Linked DNA regions of Homo sapiens. The protein of the gene in region 1 purifies or fractionates together with the protein of each later gene. This does not show direct contact. Each region holds a gene or a part of one and is shown on either strand. Other genes may lie near its edges.

Evidence for each region.
Region 2: the proteins of TNFSF8 (region 1) and FGFRL1 purify together in Homo sapiens (affinity purification with mass spectrometry; 2 studies listed by BioGRID and IntAct, with this or other methods). This does not show direct contact.
Region 3: the proteins of TNFSF8 (region 1) and MFSD8 purify together in Homo sapiens (affinity purification with mass spectrometry; 2 studies listed by BioGRID and IntAct, with this or other methods). This does not show direct contact.
Region 4: the proteins of TNFSF8 (region 1) and PTPN2 purify together in Homo sapiens (co-immunoprecipitation; 3 studies listed by BioGRID and IntAct, with this or other methods). This does not show direct contact.

What each region holds. Positions count from the first base shown.
Region 1 is NC_000009.12:114,916,690-114,921,303, forward strand, and holds part of TNFSF8 (tumor necrosis factor ligand superfamily member 8), read right to left. Parts: intron 1,450-4,614; coding exon 1,407-1,449; intron 1-1,406.
Region 2 is NC_000004.12:1,009,539-1,014,939, reverse strand, and holds the start of FGFRL1 (fibroblast growth factor receptor-like 1 precursor), read right to left. Parts: upstream 3,315-5,401; 5' UTR 2,986-3,314; intron 2,969-2,985; exon of another isoform or gene 2,953-2,968; intron 2,800-2,952; exon of another isoform or gene 2,663-2,799; intron 2,477-2,662; exon of another isoform or gene 2,471-2,476; coding exon of another isoform or gene 2,455-2,470; coding exon 2,376-2,454; intron 1-2,375. UniProt on the Homo sapiens protein: Has a negative effect on cell proliferation.
Region 3 is NC_000004.12:127,954,660-127,959,273, reverse strand, and holds part of MFSD8 (major facilitator superfamily domain-containing protein 8), read left to right. Parts: intron 1-1,681; coding exon 1,682-1,773; intron 1,774-4,614. UniProt on the Homo sapiens protein: Outward-rectifying chloride channel involved in endolysosomal chloride homeostasis, membrane fusion and function. Conducts chloride currents up to hundreds of picoamperes.
Region 4 is NC_000018.10:12,877,224-12,881,837, forward strand, and holds part of PTPN2 (tyrosine-protein phosphatase non-receptor type 2), read right to left. Parts: intron 1-4,614. UniProt on the Homo sapiens protein: Non-receptor type tyrosine-specific phosphatase that dephosphorylates receptor protein tyrosine kinases including INSR, EGFR, CSF1R, PDGFR.

The DNA of each region.
Region 1 (4,614 bases):
CCAGCCCACCACCTCATTTGATAAATAACGTTTTATGGAAATGCAACCGTGGTTACTTATTTGCGTGTAGTCAGCCTGGCTCAGCACTACAACAGCAGAGCTGACTAATTGCAACAGAGACATAGTGACCCCCAAAGCCTAAACGTTTACTATCTGGCCCTTCGTAGAAAAAGTTTGCTTACCCCTGCATTCTACTATGCTCCTTTTAATATTAATGTGACTGTTTACATAGACATGGTAGGAACTGAGGTCACATGCTAAGTAATTCCAGCCAAAATGAGATATTGTTGACAAGGCTATGATTATTAGTCTGCCTTGAAAGATCCAGAATCCCTGTCTTTTGGGGACTTTTGCCCCTATTTTTGAAGTCTCTGGGTGATAAACCACAGGAAAGGCATGGGCAAGGGAAACTTGAAGGACACTCCAAGTGTGATGCTGTGAGTGTGAGGAGCTGTGTCCAGTCATCTGTGTCCTCTGGTCTCAAGGACACTCTTGTGCCACTACCCTGGTGCCTACATTAACTCACTTCCTTACTTTTTGCTCTGAGCTTTCTGGCTATCCAGCTGTGTTTGCCATCTAGGTTCTAAAGGTTACAGGACTGAGATGGGAGTTGGTGTTCTTGGGCAGAAAAGACACTGTATCAGAGATGAGGACATCTTTCTGGGTTCTAGGCTTGGCTTTGTATGACCTTGGACGAGATACTTCACTTTCCCTCTCTGGGTCTTCCTTTTCCTTCTCTGAGCAATAAAAACATTAATCAGGTCATCTGAAAATTTCTCATCATCGATGTTAACTGAACTCGGCATATCATCTCTCTGAGGCTAGTAGAGACGACGTGTTAATTAGTGACTTCAATGATTGGAAATATAGGAGTGAGGAGGAAGTCTGTTTTCACAAGTCCTTGACTTCATTATGCATTTTAGCTATTACTAGTTATTTAATGATTACTATGTGCTGGTTGCCATGCCAAGCAATTTACAGATGAGATCTGAATGGCTTCTCCAATACCTTGATGAGGTGAGTATTATTATTATTCCCATTTAACAGATGAGGAGTTGAGGCTCCCCAGTGGGAAGTCAAGCCAAGATTCATTCCCCCATTTATCTGATTTCAGGTTTCAAGCATTTAACACAACACTGCCTTGCAGTCCTGCCTATGCCAGAGGTAGAATTTTCATTAGTGGGAGTGTCAAGAGCTGGTGGGAGACTTGTGGGGATGAGTTCAGGAGCTGCTAAGATGAATTCAGGTGCATCAGCTCAGTCCTGAACAGCCCTTGCCTCCACCCCTACCCACTTTACTGTTGGGTCATGTCATAGAGTTGTTTCTGGTTGATAATCAGGTTTCACACTTTATGGCATTTATCTAGATGACTTACTACACATTTACACCTAATTCCAAGATCTTACCTCCTTTGAGGGGGACGTTGTCAGGTGAGTTGGGAATGGAGTCCTGGAAGAAAAGAAAGAAAAAAGCAGCATGAGGTGTGACATTCAGTTGAAACAACTTTTTTTTTTCTTTTTCATTTTGTTGTCCTTAAAGTACTGTGCAATTTACAATTCATCCTCCACCTGAATTTTAAAAATTAATTCACTGATGTAGTTTCCAATGGGCTTTCTATCCATTTGTTTGACAATCTATTAGAAATGCAAGATGAGGATTACTGTCCCCGTTCCACAGGCAAGAGACACGGGGTTGAGTGAGATAAAATGACTTGCCTAGGGCCACATAGTTAATTTATAGAAGATCAGGGACCAGAGCTGGGACTTTTTTTTTTTTTTTAGACAAAGTTTTACTCTGTCACCCATGCTGGAGTGCAGTGGTATGATCATGGGTCACTGCAGCTTCATCCTCCTGAGTTCAAGCGATCCTCTTGCCTCAGCTTCCTGAGTAGCTGGGAGTACAGGTGCACACCACTACACTCAGCTAATTAAAAAAAGGAGTCTTGCTCTGTTGCCAGGCTGGAGTGCAGTGGCACTATCTTGGCTCACTGCAACCTCCGCCTCCCAGTTCAGGTGATTCTCCTGCCTCAGTCTCCAGAGTAGCTGGGACTACAGGCACCCACCACCACACCCAGCTAAGTTTTGTATTTTTAGTAGACACAGGGTTTCACCATATTGGCCAGGTTGGTCTCGAACTCCTGACCTTGTGGTCCACCCGCCTCAGCCTCCCAAAGTGCTGGGATTACAGGTGTGAGCTATCACACTCGGCTAGAGCCAGGACTCAACTCCCAATCTGGTGCTTTTCCCCCCTCCATATGTTTGGGTGTTTTTTTCTTTTTTTTTCCTTCTGGTCAACATGAGAATAATCAAGTATATCATAAAAGTAGATGTGTTTTTTTTTTTTCCATGTTTGATTCATCTGTGAACGTATGTTGTAAACATACCTGGGAAGGTACATCTCTATGTCTCCTGTGGTTGGAAATTCTGAATTAATTGTGTGTTTATATGCCAAGCATTGTGAGGACACCATACATAATTAAATTGGGTCCCCATCCTTATGGATTTATTACAAGTTTATATTTAAATATACAAATATGTATACACATGTAGTATACATACAAATGCATATTATATATTTAAACATTTACATAGTATATTATTTATTCTGTAATAAATATATACATAAATATTTACACAAATAAGAGGTTGATAGAAACAGATTGTCTTTTGAAGGAGGGAATCCTGGGCTGGGGATTGAAGGTGACTAAAGGGAGGTTCTAGTTCAAGGACTCTCAACAAGGAGTTAACAGAAGCAGAGAGGCACAGTTCTTTTCCCCTAATAAATTCTTCAGACACTAAGTTTCACACCCTGATTGTCCCTCCCCTTTCTCTCCAGCCATGGAGACACCCATACAATATTCTGCCAATAAGGAATGAAGTATTTTATTCATCTTTTGACCTGCCCAGGTTGGAATCTCCTGTATTGCATTGAATTAAAATATTAGTAAAGACCTAGAGAGGTGTGAGCGTGTGTATGCGAAAAAACCAACTTCCTAACCTCTACCAAAGCAAGAAATTAGCAGCCGCCCACAGCTTATTTTCTTAGTGTTCTGTATGAACACTAGGACCATCTGGAGTTCCCCTATTATTGTAACATTTCCCTGGGAGGTCTGTCATTTGCCTTCCGCTGAAAGCTTGTTTTCTTATGAATGGATCTCTTCTCTAGTGCAAGAGGTTGGTAGTGAGTCAAGGAGGTCTCCTGAAGGCAAAGCCCTGGCACAGCACCAATCTGGAGATGGGGGAAGTCAGCTTAAACATTTGGGCCCTACCTTCTCAGGGGAAGGGAGGCAAACTTGTCCTGGAAGGCCCTTCCTACTGTAACAGTCTACGACTTTGTTGCCTTAGTTGAAAGCTTTTAACCTAACAAAGCTAAGTTTTTGTAGTCTTTCAGTTATGCATGCAGTTTGCAGGAAAACTTGATATCACAAAATTCCCCTTTATGTTGCCCTTGTGAGACAACACACAACATTTTAAAATTTAATAAACAACTTACAACTTACTGCCAAGCGTGACCATTGATTAGCATGATGTGCAAATGCACTAAGAAAAATATCTGCATTGAAATGTCTTACCACAATCATCAAATTCATCAAGCTGCCCAGGGACATATACAGGGACAGTGAGAGAGGCTAGAATAGCAAACCTGGTACAGCCATCATTGCAGAGGCTGCTAGCAGTTCGGGAAGTCCTAGAGAATCATTCATGCAGCACACCTTGAATGAGCACCTGGTCTGTGGTAGGAACTACGTTAGTCACTAAAAGACATCCTATGGATTTTATGCTTTAGTCATTAAGGCAGCCATTTAAAAAATATAAATAAATGTGTAATTAGAATTGCAGGTTGTGGCAAGAGCTATGGAGGAAAAGAATCATAGTGCTTTAAGGTAGTGCTGTTAGAACTTCAATGTGCATATGAATCACCTGGGAGTCTCGTTAAAATGCAAATTCTGATTCTGCAGATTTGGGGGGAGTTTAACATTCTGCATTTTTTTCTTTTTGAGATGGAGCCTCACTCTGTCACCCAGGCTGGAGTGCAGTGGCGCAATCTCGGCTCACTGTAGCCTCCATCTCCTGGATTCGAGCAATTCCTCTACCTCAGCCTCCCCAGTAGCTGGGACTACAGGGGCCCACCACCACCCCCGGCTAATTTTTGTATTTTTAGTAGAGACGGGATTTCGCCATGTTGACCAGGCTGGTCTTGAACTCCTGACCTCTTGTGATCTGCCCGCCTGGGCCTCCCAAAGTGCTGGGATTACAAGCGTGAGCCACCGCACCTGGCCAACATTCTGTATTTCTGGCAGCTTTCGAGTAATACTGACACTCCTGGCCCACAGAACACTTTGAATAGCACAGCTGTGAGAAGTAATATCAGAGAGGAGGACCTAATTTATATGGGGGTCAAGGAAAGCCTCTTTTCTCTCTGTCACTTGAATGCATTCTGGTTTCCTAATTTCAGACATGGGATGTCAAAAGCAGAGCATCTCAAACAGGAAAGAAACCTGTCATTTAAACCTTCACCCAGGGCCCAGGAAGTCCATGACAGAAGCGTGACTATTCCTATTTTGAAGAGCTCTTGGGATGAGGTCTTTACAGCTTCTCCTAGCTACCCATGGTA
Region 2 (5,401 bases), on another chromosome or scaffold:
AAAGGAGTCTGCGGTCGGCGTTTCCAGGCCCAGCCAAAGGCGACTTTGTTCACGGCTCCCTCCCTCCCCCCAAGGGGACAGTGATTTATTTTCCCTTCCAGGAGTGGGGCCCCGAGATGGAAACGGGGCGGCTGGCCCGATTCCCCACCTTGCAGGGGCTGGGCCCAGCTCCCACACGTCCACCTCAGCCCGCTGCACACGGGCCAGCCACTGCCCGGAAGGGCCTGGGGCGAGGGAGGAAGGCCCTGAGGCCTGGCTGGGGGCCGAGGTCAGCACCGTACACCCACGGCTATTGCTTCCCCGAATCACAACCCTTCAGACTCTTGCCCCCACAGGGAGCCGACACTGACCCCGCTACCCCCCAGGCATGGGGCACCCCTGGACAGGCACCCTGCCCACCTGGGTCAGGGCTCAGCTTGCCCACCGCAGCTGGCCGGGTGCAGAGGACAGGGGAGTGGCCTCCTAGGCAGGCCACTCAGAGCTGGCCCCCAAGGCCATGCTTGCAAAAGTTCAAAGGTGGCACTTCTCAGAAAGCCCTGAAACGACTTCCTTCAGAGTTATTTGTGAAAGACATTTCATGCAGAACCTCTCAAGTTCCCACTGTGAGAAATAAAATGGAAAGGGAGAAAGCCAATTCCTATATTTTTTCAAATTGGAAAAAAAAAAAGCAGTTTAAGACAAATCCACCAAGATTGTGAAAGTTTGGGAAAAGAGGAACTTTTAAAATATGATCTGAGTGTAGCGATGTGCCGATTCCAGAACTTATGACCCAGCGGGAAATGGCTTTTCAAAAATAACCCAAGCCCTCTGCATGCTGGTCCTTGGCCTAACGAAGGTGCACAGTGGGCTGTTCAGAGCAGGAGAAACACACTTGGATGGACCTCGCGCCCTAGTCCACGCTAGGAAAATCAGCACAGTCCGGAAGAACCTCCTCCCCACCTCCACCCAAACCACAGAGGCCCCTGCCCTTGGAAAGCAGCTTGATCCCAGCTCCCCAGTGCCGCCAGGGCCTTTGCCACGCAAAGCCAGGGCTGGATATCCTCAGCCCCAAGGCCGCAGCTGAGGAGGACGAAGGCGAAGGGGGTGGCCGCTGGGGCGTCTCCACGAAGAGGCGGGCTCTGCCGCCCACTGCCATGGCTGACCGTGGCCATCCACCAGTCAGCTTCAGCCCCAGCCAGGAAACATGGCAGGACAGAGGCCTCCAGAGCCTCCCTGGCCGAGTGGCCAGAGGACAGGCAGGTGTAGGGATTGGGGAGGCCAAACAGATCAAAGAGAATGCAAGTCCAGGCCGCTGGCCATGGTAGGGGCTCGCCCAGTATGGCCTGAGTGCCCACACAGCCCAGGACGCTGCCGGGCCCTCAGAGCAGCCGCTCAGCCAGGCCCATGTGGGCAGGCGGGGGGTAGGGGGGGGTGCTGTGGCATAAGGCCCACCTGGTCACCGCCCGCCACCCAGCACCCGAACGTGCCCATATAAGGCCAGGTTGGATGCGGCGCGCTTGCTGGGCGGCAGGGGAGGGGTGCGAAGCCTCAGGACTGGTGGACACAGCGCGGACAATCCTGAGTGGTCAACACGCCCAAAGGGCCGGCCTGGCCACAGGTCCCGCCTAGCCATGGGGGCAGCCAGCGCTGTGCCCGGATCCTGGAACATGGCGGGCATGAGTCTGCGGGCACACGTCACCCATCGGCTCCGGATGTCCTTGCTGGGGCTGGGTCCCAGGGCATGGCTGCCACTTAGATGTCGGTGCCATGAGCACGTACCAGGCCAGCACAGCGTGTGCCCAGAGGCACGCAGTCCTGGGGTGCGTCACGGCTCTGGGGACTTGTCCACACAACCGCCCGGCACTGCCTGCCTAGAGCTGGGCAGGCCCAGGGCACACGGCTAGGTCGGCTGGGGGACTGGGGGTCTGGGGGTCAGTTTCAGTCCCAGACACCAAGTATATTACCAATATCTCCCATAGCCCATCCTGCCTTCCGTGGGGGTCTCTGCAGGTTCCCAGAGTCCTTATCGGGTCCACTGTGGCCACAAACCGCCCACTCCCCAAGAATCCACAGGTGATTAGCTGCCCTGGACTGCAGGTACGAGTATGAAAGTGTTTGCAAGACCAGGAGCATGTCCTGGGGAGCCAGGACTAAAGCCCACCTGGCCAGCAAGCACGCATGAGGGGAACCCCTCCAGCCAGCTAGGGGAGCCCCGGTGGGTGCTGTGGACAGCCCATGGGTGAGGGGGCCCTGGAAGGAAGGGGGCCTGGCGAGCGGGGCGGCAGGGGCGGGGCATGGCGCGTGCCAGGCGGGCACTGTGGCAGGGTTCAGGGCCGGGCGGGAAGGGGGCGGCGCTGGCGGAGGCCAGGCTGGCCGGGCTGGGCGCCAGAACTCACCTCGGGCGGCGGCGGCCGGCGGGAAGGCCCCCAGCAGCAGCGGCGGCAGCAGGAGCAGCAACAGGGGGCTCGGCGTCATCTCGGCCTGTCCGGACCTGGGGACATTGGGGGCGCCGTCACTAACACGTGGAACTGGGAGATACCGCCCTCCCCGGTCCCGGGCCGCGGGGATCAGGGGTCTGGCCGCCCTCCCCACAGGCCCTCCCCGCCCGCGCTCCAGGCGGAGGAAGCCGCAGCGGGGAGAAGCTGTGGGTATCAAAGGCAGACAAAGGGTTTACACTAATTACCGGGCTCCCCCGCCGCCCCCCCTCTCCAAACACCGTCTGGATTCCTGGCGCTTGTAACTCCGGCCCTGCCCGCAGGACACACAACACTCAGCGCCCCGCAGATAATCGCCTGCGCCATTAGCGGACAAATTTGCGCTGGGGGGGGCCCACGTGGGGCGCGGGGGCGGGGGCGGGGCAGGCCGGGGGCCCGCAGGAGCGGCGGCGGCGCGCATGACCCGTGCCCAGCTGGGGCCCCGAACCCGCCCCTCCCCGCCCCCGCCCCGGACCCCCGCCCTCCCCCGTGTGCCCACCTGGGGTCGCGGCCGCGCGCGCGGGGGGCTCACCTCGGCGGGGGGCTCAGCGGGCGGGCGGCGGGGTCAGGGCCGGGCCCGCGGCGTGCGCTCCGCGGTCATCGCCGCCCCGGGCGCCGCATCCCGCCGCCCCGCGCCCCCGGGCCCGGTCTCGGGGCGGGGCGGCGCTACCTGGGCGCGGGCGGCTCGGGCCGGGTCGGGGTCCGGGCTCGGGCGCTCGGGGCGCGGGGTCCCGGACCGGGCAGGCGGCGGGGGCGAGTCCGCGGGGCCGGGGGCCGGGGCCGGGATCCCGGGGCGGCGGGGCGAGGGGCCCGGGGCGCCGCGCCGCGAGGCGTCCTTCCCTGCGGGGCTTTGTCAACTCTCCCGGAGCGAGCGCCGAGCCCGGACCCCCGACCCGCCCCCGGCACAACTTCCGGCCAATCCGCGCGCGTCAGCCCTCCCCCGTGCCCCGCCCCGCCGCCAAACTTTTCCCCAATCCGCGCGCGCACACCGCCCCCGCCCCGCCGGGCTCCCGGCCTTAACCCTCGCGGTGCGGACGTCCCCGCGGGCGGGCGGCTTCCCCGGGTCCGGCCCCGCCCCCGCCCCCGCCCCGCCCCAACCCGAGCCTCGCCGCGCCCCCGGCCCCGCCCGCGCGCCCTTGGTCCCCGCAGGCTCCTAGGACCGGCCAGGAGCCGCCGCGCCCTCCCCATACCTGCGCCCGCGCGCGCCCGGGTCGGGTCCTCAACTCTCGAGACACCTCCGCGACCCCCAGAGCAGGCTCCGGCCCTGCCCGCGGCAGTCTGACCTCTGCGCAGCCCCGGGCCGGGCCCAGACCGCTCTCTGGTTGCTCAGAAGGGGGCGGACTGGACGGCCGCGGGAGCTTCGAGGCTTCCAGGTCTGCGCCCCGGGGGGTCTTCGGGAGCAGAAGGGAGAAGCAGGGCCTCGCCCAGCCGGAGCTGCTGGGGACGGGGTAGGGGGGGACGGCCGCGGCGATGCAGGCAGGGGTCCTCCCCGGGGCGTTCGGGTTACCTGGTGCCTTTGGCCAAAGGTATGTTCCCACCTGAGGCCTCCCAGCCTCTCACCTGCTAGTGACGGGAATGACAAGAACATTAATCATCGTAATAGACGTCAACATGCGATTCAATCTCCGCTACCGGGCAGGCGGCCCCAGGAGCAGATGAAGAAACGGAGGCGTGGAGAAGACAGCGCCCAGCTCTTCGCGGCTCTTCCTCCACACGCCTCGCCTGCCGTCCCTGCCCAGGGCCCAGCACGCAGGGCTCCCAGGCCGCACCTCCAGCCGCCCCATGGCCTCCCCTCATCCTGCCTCCCAGTCTTGCAACACAAACCTCACGGCCTGCCCACATCCCGCCTCACACCCTCGACTCCGCGGAGTCACCATCCCAGCACCTCCTCCATCCCCCAGAGCAGCCTCTCTTTCTGGGGCCTGAAGCCCCCTCTTCCAGGAAGTCCTCCCAGGAAAGGCTGAAACTGGAGAGGCCTGGCAGCCGGTGTCCCCAGGCCGAGGAGAGCTAGGCGGGGCGTGGGGGGCGCCAGCTGTCAGGGTGTGGGACTCCTCAAGGCCCGAACTACCCGGCCGTCCCAAGGTGCTGGTTCCCAGCCCAGCGTCCTCCACCCCAAATCCCGCGTCTGGGCCAGCGTGGGCGTCGCGAGGGCGGATGGAGGTGCGCTCGGACGGCCCATCCTGCCCCCGCTGGCGCAGCCGCCGCTGTGCACCCGGGGAAGGGTCCAGGGACCGCCGCGTGGTCCTCCCGGCGGGAGAACGTCCTGCGCCGCCGCCGCGGCCCTGTCCCACAAGGAGCCAGCAGCGCCGGGGCCCACCTGCCGCCCTCCCGGCCGGAGCTGCAGTCACGGACAGGTGGGTGGGGCGGTCTCACGCCCGTGGGAGAGCGGCGCTGAACTTCCCGGACAGCTGGCGAGGAGGCAGCGCTCCCACAGATGTGCGGGCTGCCGGACACAGGTGCGTGGAAAGGGGACAGGTGTGCGGAAACGTGGCTGCGAGCGTGCAAAGTATAAGCAGGGAGCGGACAGGCCGGCAGGTGCCGGCCCCCGAATGAGCGGGCAGTGGGAGGGGCACGGGCAGCGTCGCGGCCCCTGGCGGGCGGGGCCGGGACGGGGGGCGGGGCCAGGGGCGGAGCGGCAGACGGGGCGGGGCCCGAGGCGGACAGGGGCGGGGACGGGGAGGGGGCGGGGCCTGGCCGGGCGGGGGCGGGGCCCGGGCCTCCCGCGCCGGCACGCGCTGCCCTCTGGCGGTGGCGGCGGCGCCGGCGCGGCAGCTCCCGAGGCGTTTTTCCTCGTCTCCTCGCCCCGCCCCGCCCCGCCCCGCCCCGCCCCGCCCGCCACGTCCCAGCCCGCGGCCGGCCCAGGCCCCGTCCTCAGGCAGCCCCCCGCCCCTCGCCCACCCCCGGAACAGGGACTGGGCCCTCCCCGCTCCCACGGCCCTTCGGGTCAG
Region 3 (4,614 bases), on another chromosome or scaffold:
ATCTTTGAAGAGTCTAGGTCAGGTTTTCTGCAGAACATCTAATATTCTGGATTTATGGACTGTTTATTTCAAAATAGATCCTGGTCAAACATTTCTGGCAAGAATATCACATGGGTTATGTTGAGAACACCCCACTACATTACATCAAAAGGTACAGGATGCCAGGACATCCCACTACTGGGAATGCCAAACATGACCACTTGTTAAGAGGGTGACTGCTATATCTTTCAATTATAAAGGTTCATGTTCCATTTTGTAATTAGTAAGCAGACACTGGGGTGACATTTGAGGGCCTTTGACTATCCTCTCCTTAACAATCTTCCAGTCAGTTGTTTTAGCATCCATTGATGATCCTTCCATTATAGCATAGAAAGTGGCCATTAAATTATTATTTTCTAATTTTATCCTTTCAATATTTAATAATTGTCATTTGTCATTAAAAGAAGAAAGATTTTGTCTGAGCTCTAAATCAGTCACTCAAACAATTTTATTATTTTTTTAGAATCAAATAATTTACTTCTTGATTCCCTAACTTAGATATATCTGGTTTTTTATTCAAATTCTAGTATATTGATTTCAAAGTATGGGCATCTAGGGTTCTGGTATTTTTCTCAGGTAAGCTACATTATTTTTATTTTTTTCTTATCTCCTTTGACTCAGAAGAGGTTTGTTTATATGGAATGACATATATAGTGTTAAACACTTTAAATATATTAGGAACTAATATGTTTGGCATATAATACATCTAAAAACATTGTTTCTCTTCTTCCTTTCCTCTTTACCACTCCCAACCATATCACGTTTGAAAAAAAAAAGTTTCTTTTTTGAAGACTAATTTGACAGTTCTAAGGCTTATTTTTAAGAAATTAATCTTGGAACATAAGAAGGCATTTTGTCTGTTCTGCATGTCTTGATTATTTGAAAAGATAATGCTCACGTTAAGGTGAACTTGTTAACTCTTTCTATTGTGTGTGTGAAAATGTAATGAGTATATAGACTCATGTGTCACCTAATGGAGGTAAGATATCTACTTAGTATACATGCCTTTGGTCCAGATCAGACGCTTATCCAAAAGATCACTTAAGTCTGGGGAGTCATGGTCTCTCTTTGGTCTGCTGATAAAATTTATCTGGTAACCCATTTAGGAGGTCCCAGGGCTGAAAATGTCTTAGGTTACGTTAAACCTTCCTGGTATCATTCCTGTTTTCTGAAGTAGGAAGCCAAAAGAGCTTCCTGCAGCAATTTAATTTGCTGTCATCAAGTAGAGCATGTTATAATGATGACAGTTATTATTTTTTAGTACTTAGTAGCTACGGGGGATCTAGTTGTAGCTAGTTTATTTGATTTATCTTGACGTAATTTATTCATTTTTACAAATTGCAACACTCTTGATTAATAAATCTGTGCATGTCAATGGTAGCAAAATAATTGCCTTGCAAAAAGTTTCCTCTTTTAAAACTATACTGTTTCCCAAATTTCTGTATACAATAATGCATATATACAATCCATGGAAATTCAAAAAAATAATGCTTATTCATAGATAAATTAGTGTAGCAGAATCAATATTGGTAAATTCTACCTCTATCACATCATTTTCATAACTAGAGAATAAAACTGTTGACACTTAAGATCCACATGTAATGAGATAAATTTATACTACTTTTTTCTTCTTTACACCTAGAGAATGGGACATTTTAGAGACTGAAGAGCATTATAAGAGCCGATGGAGATCTATTAGGATTTTATATCTTACTATGTTTCTCAGCAGTGTAGGTAAGTATTAGAAATACATAATTTTAACAATTCAGATCAGATGTCATATTTTAACTTCATTTACTTCATTTACTTTCATTGCCTCTGAAATTATCTTTATTGTGCTAAAAAATACGTGACATAAATTTACCGTGTTACCATATCTAAGTTCAATAGCCTTAAGTATATCCACATTGTTGTGCAACCAATCCCTAGAACATTTTCATCTTGCAAAAGAGAAACTCTATACCCATTAAACAACTCCCTATTTTCCCATCCCCCAAGCCCTAGCAAACTTTGTTTCTTGGAATTTGACTATTCTAGATAGCTCATATAAATGGAATTATATAGTATTTTTTTTCTTGTGATGAGATTATTTCACTCAATGTCCTCAAGTTGGTTCATGTTGCACTTGTGATAATTTCCTTTTATTTAAAGGCTGTATAGTTCATTATATGTATTCTAGGGTAGGAGAAATTTTTCCTCTATTCTCCTATGTGCTTAAGGCTTGTGAATTAAGCTGACAAAAGAAAGACTAACAGTTAAAAAAGTATACAAATTTATTTGATGTTAATATTTTTTAATGAAAAGAAACAAATAACATTAAGGAATGTACATACAAACGAAACTAGACAACTACTAAGAGTCCCTAACACTTTCATGTACTCACAAAAGTATTTCATCTTTTTTTTTTTTTTTTTTTGAGACGGAGTTTCACTCTTGTTGCCCAGGCTGGAGTGCAATGGCACGATCTCAGCTCACTGCAACCTCCACCTCCCAGATTCAAGCGATTCGCCTGCCCCAGCCTGCCAAGTATCTGGGATTACAGGCATGTGCCACCACCCCTGGCTAATTTTGTATTTTTAGTAGAGACGGGATGTCTCCATGTTGGTCAGGCTGGTCTCGAACTCCCAACCTCAGGTGATCTGCCCACCTCGGCCTCCCAAAGTGCTGCGATTACAGGCGTGAGTCACCGCCCCCAGTTAAAAATATTTCATCTTTTTTCTTTTTTTTTTTTTTTCAAGACGGAGTTTCGCACTGTCGCCCAGGCTGGAGTGCAGTGGCGCGATCTCGGCTCACTGCAAGCTCCGCCTCCCAGGTTCGCGTGATTCTCCTGCCTCAGCCTCCCGAGTAGCTGGGACTACAGACACCCGCCACCACGCTAATTGTTTTATATTTTTAGTAGAGACGGGGTTTCACTGTGTTAGCCGGGATGTCTTGATCTCCTGACCTCGTGATCTGCCAGACTCAGCCTCCCAAAGTGCTGGAATTACAGGCCTGAGCCACCGCACCTGGCCAAAAGTATTTCATCTTTACAGCCATCAGTCAATTATTTGTTCTGCTACTTCTTGAAGATGTGCAAAATTTCTTTTTAAAAAAATTTTATTATTTATTATTATTTATTCATTTTTTGAGGTGGAGTCGCCCAGGCTGGAGTGCAGTGGTGTGATCTCGGCTTACTGCAACCTCTGCCTCCTGGGTTCGAGCAATTCTTGTGCCTTAGCCTCCCGAGTAGCTGGGACTACAGGCGCACGCTATCACGCCCAGCTAATTTTTTTGTATCTTTAGTAGAGATGGGGTTTCACGGCGTTAGCCAGGATGGTCTCGATCTCGTGACCTCATGATCTGCCCGCCTCAGCCTCCCAAAGTGCTGGGATTACAGGCGTGAGCCACCCCGCCTGGCCAGTGCAAAATTTCTTAAGTTTAAATATACAGTCTTAATTATACCTGTGTCTTAATGTCCCAAGACAGATTGTAGGTAACAGAATCTCAATTGTGCCTCAAAGAATTAACAACAAAACAAAATTCAATCTATTCTCTGCATTCAGGCAGAAAGGGGGAGAGCAGAGAACCCTTCCTGCATCTGCTATTTCTCGGTTGCCTTCAGTTTGAGATAATTAATATGGCAAAACAGCAGATTTTTGGAGTAGCATACTCTGATTGCCTTCAGTATATACCACATTTTTTTTTTTTTTTTTTTTGAGACAAAGTCTCGCTCTGTCGTCCAAGCTGGAGTGCAGTGGTGTGATCTTGGCTCACTGAAACCTCCGCCTGCGGGGTTCAAGCAATTCTCTGCCTCAGCCTCCCAGGTAGCTGGGATTACAGTCACCCACCACCATGCCCGGCTAATTTTTGTATTTTTAGTAGAGATGGGGTTTCACCATCTTGGCCAGGCTGGTCTTGAACTCCTGACCTCGTGATCCACCGGCCTCAGCCTCCCAAAGTGCTAGGATTACAGCCTAGCCTGGCCTACCACATTTTGTTTAGCCATTTATCTGTCGATGGACATTTGGGTTGCTTCCACCTCTTGGCTGTTGTGAATAGTGCTGCTGTCAATATGGGTGTGCAAATATCTCTTCAAGATCCTGCTTTTAGTCCTTTTGGGTATATATCCAGAAGTGAAATTGCTGGATCATATTATGATTTTCTTTTTAATTTTTTAATTTTTTGGAAAATTGCCATACTGTTTTCCATAGCAGCCGTACCATTTTATTTACATTCTCAACAACAGTCAGGGTTCCAATTTTTTCACATCCTTGCCAACGTTAACTTTCTTTTGGATAGTAGTCATCCTAGTGGATGAGATGGTATCTTGTTTTGATTTGCATCTTCTTAATGATTAGTGATGTTGAACATGTTTCTTGTGCTTTCTGTCCATTTGTATATCTTCTTTGGAGAAGTGTTTGTTCAAGACCATTGCCCATTTATTAGTTGGATTTTTTGTTGTTGAGTTGTAGGAATTCTTTATATACTCTGAATGTTAGCCCCTTATCCAATATATGATTTGTAAATATTTTCTCCCATTCCAGGACTCTTCTATTCAGTGTGCTAAATGTATCCTGTGATTCACATTCACAGAAG
Region 4 (4,614 bases), on another chromosome or scaffold:
AACAAAGAAAAAAAAAGACCACCCTCAAGGAGCTACACAGAACAGACAAGTAGACAGTTACAAAACAATGTGGTTCATATTCTAATAAAAGAATATAGAGAACTAAGAAATGAGAGAAGGGGGAGCATTTAACTTTGCCCAAGGAGACTACGGTCTAGTCTTGAAGATGTTTCCCAAATAGATATGGTAGGCATGGAGTATATCCAACACATGAAGACTCCAAGGTGTGAGAGAGTAGCCAATCTTCAAGGGAATTCAGAGTTTGTGCAACCATGTAAAAGCACTGAGATTAGACAGCAGGCAGGAGAATGTGTAACTAGTAGGCAAGGGAAGTGTTTTAGAATAAGACAGCTTTGATTCACCTGCCTAACTGGCTGCCCCGCTGTAAGTATGAGAAGAACAGTGTGCACTTGATATCTGACTTCTAAAAATTAGCTGACTCACAAATGGTAAAAATTGTTCTCTAGCAATATTTGAACTACAAATTTCTAATAAAGAAAAATGGCGGCCAGGCGCAGTGGCTCATGCCTATAATCCCAGCACTTTGGGAGGCCGAGGCAGGTGGATCACAAAGTCAGGAGATCAAGACCATCCTGGCTAACACGGTCAAACCCCGTCTCTACTAAAAATACAAAAAATTAGCCTGGCGTGGTGGCGGGCGCCTGTAGTGTTGGCGGGCGCCTGTAGTCCCAGCTACTCAGAAGGCTGAGGCAGGAGAATGGCGTGAACCTGGGAGGCAGAGCTTGCAGCGAGCCGAGATGACGCCACTGCACTCCAGCCTGGGCAACAGAGCAAGACTGTCTCAAAAAAAGAAAAAGAAAAAAGAAAAATGGCCAGGCACAGTGGCTCATGCTTGTAATCCTAAGCCTTTGGAAGGCTGAGGTGGACAGATTGCTTGAACTCAGGAGTTGAAGACCAGCCTGGGCAAAATAGTTAAACCCTGTCTCTACAAAAAATACAAAAAAATTAGCCAGGCCCAGCTACGTGGGGGACTGAGGCAGGAGGATGTCTAAAGCCCAAGAGGTCGAGACTGCAGTGAGCTGAGATCACGCCACTGCACTCCAGACTGGGTGACAAAGTGAGACCCAGTCTCAAAAAGAAAAGAAAGAAAAAGAAAAAAAAAGAAAGAAAAAGGAAAAAAAGAAAGAAAAAGAAAAATGTGGCTGGGCGTGGTGGCTCACACCTGTAATCCCAGCAGCACTTTGGGAGGCCGAGGCAGGTGGATCACCTGAGGTCAGGAGTTCAAGACCAGCCTGACAAACATGGTGAAACCCCGTTTCTACTAAAAATACAAAAATTAGCTGGGCGTGCTGGTGGGCACCTGTAATCCCAGCTACTCGGGAGGCTGAGGCAGTAGAACTGCTTGAACCTGGGGGGAGCAGAGGTTGCAGTGAGCTGAGATCACACTACTGCACTCCAGCCTGGGGGACAGAGCAAGACTTGGTTTCAAAAAAAGAAAAATGAAGTCAGTCAGGAGTTCCATTGTTTATAAACCCTAATTAATCAACCAATTTCCAAGAGGCTGAGGTGAGAGGCTCACCTGAGCCCAGGAGTTTAAGGTTGCAGTGAGCTATGATTGCACCACTGCACTTGTACTCCAGACTGGGCAACAGAGTGAGAACTCTTTAAAAAAGAAAGGAATTTAAAAATAAATAAGCCAAATTCCTTCTGAGCCATCACTTCTTAGAAACAACCCATAACATAGCTTTTGCGATTCCCCAGTTTTAGTCTTTTCCTCAGTAGGCACACAGACTCCATTCCTTCTCTCTGCCTTTCTCAAAGCTCAGCCTGATGAAGACAGCAATCAGCAGTGACAAAAGGAAAAGCCAAAAAGGGATCATGAACATTACTCAAAAAGTCAGAATTAACCTCACACAATCAGACCAAATTAAACTTTTCCAACTGCACCCTTTGTTTTGCTGTTCTTGTTTTAGAGACAGGATCTCACTCTGTCACCTAGTCTGTAGTGCAGTGGCACAATTATGGCTCACTGCAGCCCTAACCTCCTGACCTCAAGTGATCCTCCCACCTCAGCCTCCCAAAGCGCTGGGATTACAGGGATGAGCCACCGCCTGGCCAGCACTCTTTCACGATCAATTCTTCCACCTGTGTGCTCTTGGTCCCATTGACTCTTGCTTTCTAAGATTTCTGGCTCCAACAATCATCCCTTCTATTTCAACCTCCACCTCTCTCTTTAGGTTCATCCCTGCAATCACATAAATATATCAAGTTGCCCTTTCCTCGTAAAAAGTCATTCATTCAGCACATATTTTCAAGTGCTTACTAAGCACCTGATACTGTGCAAAGCACTGGCAGTGCCTTCATGAAACTCTGAAGAAGTAATAAAAAATATAAACTCAGATTAACAGAGTCTGTTCTGCTCCAACCCAATAATTCATTTCTAAGAAACCTCCTATTATCAAACTCATGAAATAAAAGACACTTTTCAAAAGGAGCAAAAAGGAATAAGGGACCAGAGTTCCAGACTCAAAATACTAAATTCATTTTTCCCGCTAGAATTTCAACAAGGTATCAAGTTCTCCTACCACTAAGCAAGTCCAGCTTTTAGTTGTACTCAGTTTTTGCTCAAGAGCAAAGCCTTTCTTTTCCCAGCTCCATGAGCATTACCAAAAAAAGCACAACTCTTCAAAAACATTATCAGAAACATCACCCACTGCTGTGCTAAACAAAGCAGAAAGCCACCTTAAACACTTTTTTCCTACTCAAGCTGTGTTACTTTCAAGATAGTGGTTTGCTTAATGCAAATTGTGTTCCCGAAATCATTTGCTGCTGTATGACATCCAATTCCCGCTATGAAAGGGGAAGTCTTGGGATGCTAAAGAAGTACGCAACAGGGGCTCATACCCAGCATGGGCAGGTCAAGAAGGCCTGCCAAGGAAGTGAGACTTCAGGGATGAGTAGGAGGCAGTTTAAGCAAGAAAGGAAAGAGAAGGGGGGAAAGTTGTGCCAAGGCAAAGAGAACAACATTTACAAACGCCCTAAGGGGAGAATGGACACACACACTTCCAAGAATACAACACAGTGGAAAAGAGGGAGGAAAGTGATAGGGGAAATCAAGCAAGAGACACAGGCCATGAGGTCTTGTGAGCCGGAGGAGGGGCTGAATTTACACTGTGAGCAACGGAAAGCCGTTCAAGGGTTTAAGTGAGAAGTCACACAATCTTGCTTCATTTTAGCTACCTCTCCCCACTTCTTCAAGTTGGGCTTCTAAAAAGAGCAGTGTACACTTGGTAGTTTGCATTTCCTCCTACCTTCTCTCCTGAACTCCAGGTATCTGTCTTGTGTAGTCCGCTGACACAACTCCCTTTAAGGTATCTGTTAATCTAGCTGCTCAATGTCATGGCCCTCTCAGGCTGGCCCTTACCTGTCAGGTGGCCCTGCTCACCCTCAACTCCCTCCACTGCTTTCCTCCCCACTTCTGTGGTTGTTCCTCACCAGTCTTTTTTGCAAGTTCCTCTTTCTCCACCCATCCTTTTAAATGTTGTCTGTCAAGATTCTGTCCTTGGCCTTTGATATTTCCAAACGCTCTGTATCTTCCCTAGATGATCTCATCAATGTCTAAGACCTCAAATATCACCCATGTGTTCATGATTTCCAAAATCACATTTACTCAGACCCTCTCTCCCGAACTCCAAATTTATACATTCAACTAGCTTCATTTCAGTGTCTCGCAGGTACCTCAAACAGAATTAAAGTTTCAAAACCAAACTTGTACATAACGTATACCCCTTTACCATTTCATTTCAAATCTGTATCTCCCCTCCATCCCTCCTGCCACTGCCTAACAGAAGCTCATCATGTCTCTTCAGGTTTACTCCAACCGACTACTGCCCTGTGCTGCGTGCCTACACTTTCCTCATCCAGTCTGCTAGCAGTCAGAACGATCTTGCTAACAAGTAAATATGATCAGCCCAGAGCAGTGGCTCATGCCTGTAATCCCAGCACTTTGAGAGGCCGAGGCAGGCGGATCACCTGAGGTCAGGAGTTCGAGACCAGCCTGGCCAACATGTCGAAACCCTGTCTCTACTAAAAGTACAAAAAAATCAACCGGGCATGGTGGTGTGTGCCTGTAATTTCAACTACGCAGGAGGCTGAGGTAAGTGAATCACTTGAACCCAGGAGGCAGAGGTTGCAGTGAGCTGACGTCGCACCACTGCACTCCAGCCTGGGCGACAGAGCGGGACTCTGTCAAAAAAAAAAGAAGCAAATATGATCATGGTATTTCCAGACTTACAATTCCACAATGAGTTCCTATTAAACAGCTCAAATTCCTTAGTCTGATCTAGGCTCTGCCTTACTCTCCAGCATCTCAACTTCACACCAGTCTCCAGGCTAAACTGTGGGTGGTTCTCTCAGCATTCCCTCAGTGCCTTTGTGCACTCCCTCCTTGCTGGAACAGTAATTCTCTTCACCTCCCTTGTCCTCTTCCCCTGGCCAATGTCTTTCAAGACTTAGGTGAGGTCCTCCCTCCCTCGAGAAGCTTCACCAGAACTCCCATGTGTACCCCTTTTTGGGAAATACAGGACTCCTAGGTAACTCAACTCCACAAGACCCTGTGCTTCAAGCTAGCTTTACATGTATCACTTTAACGTT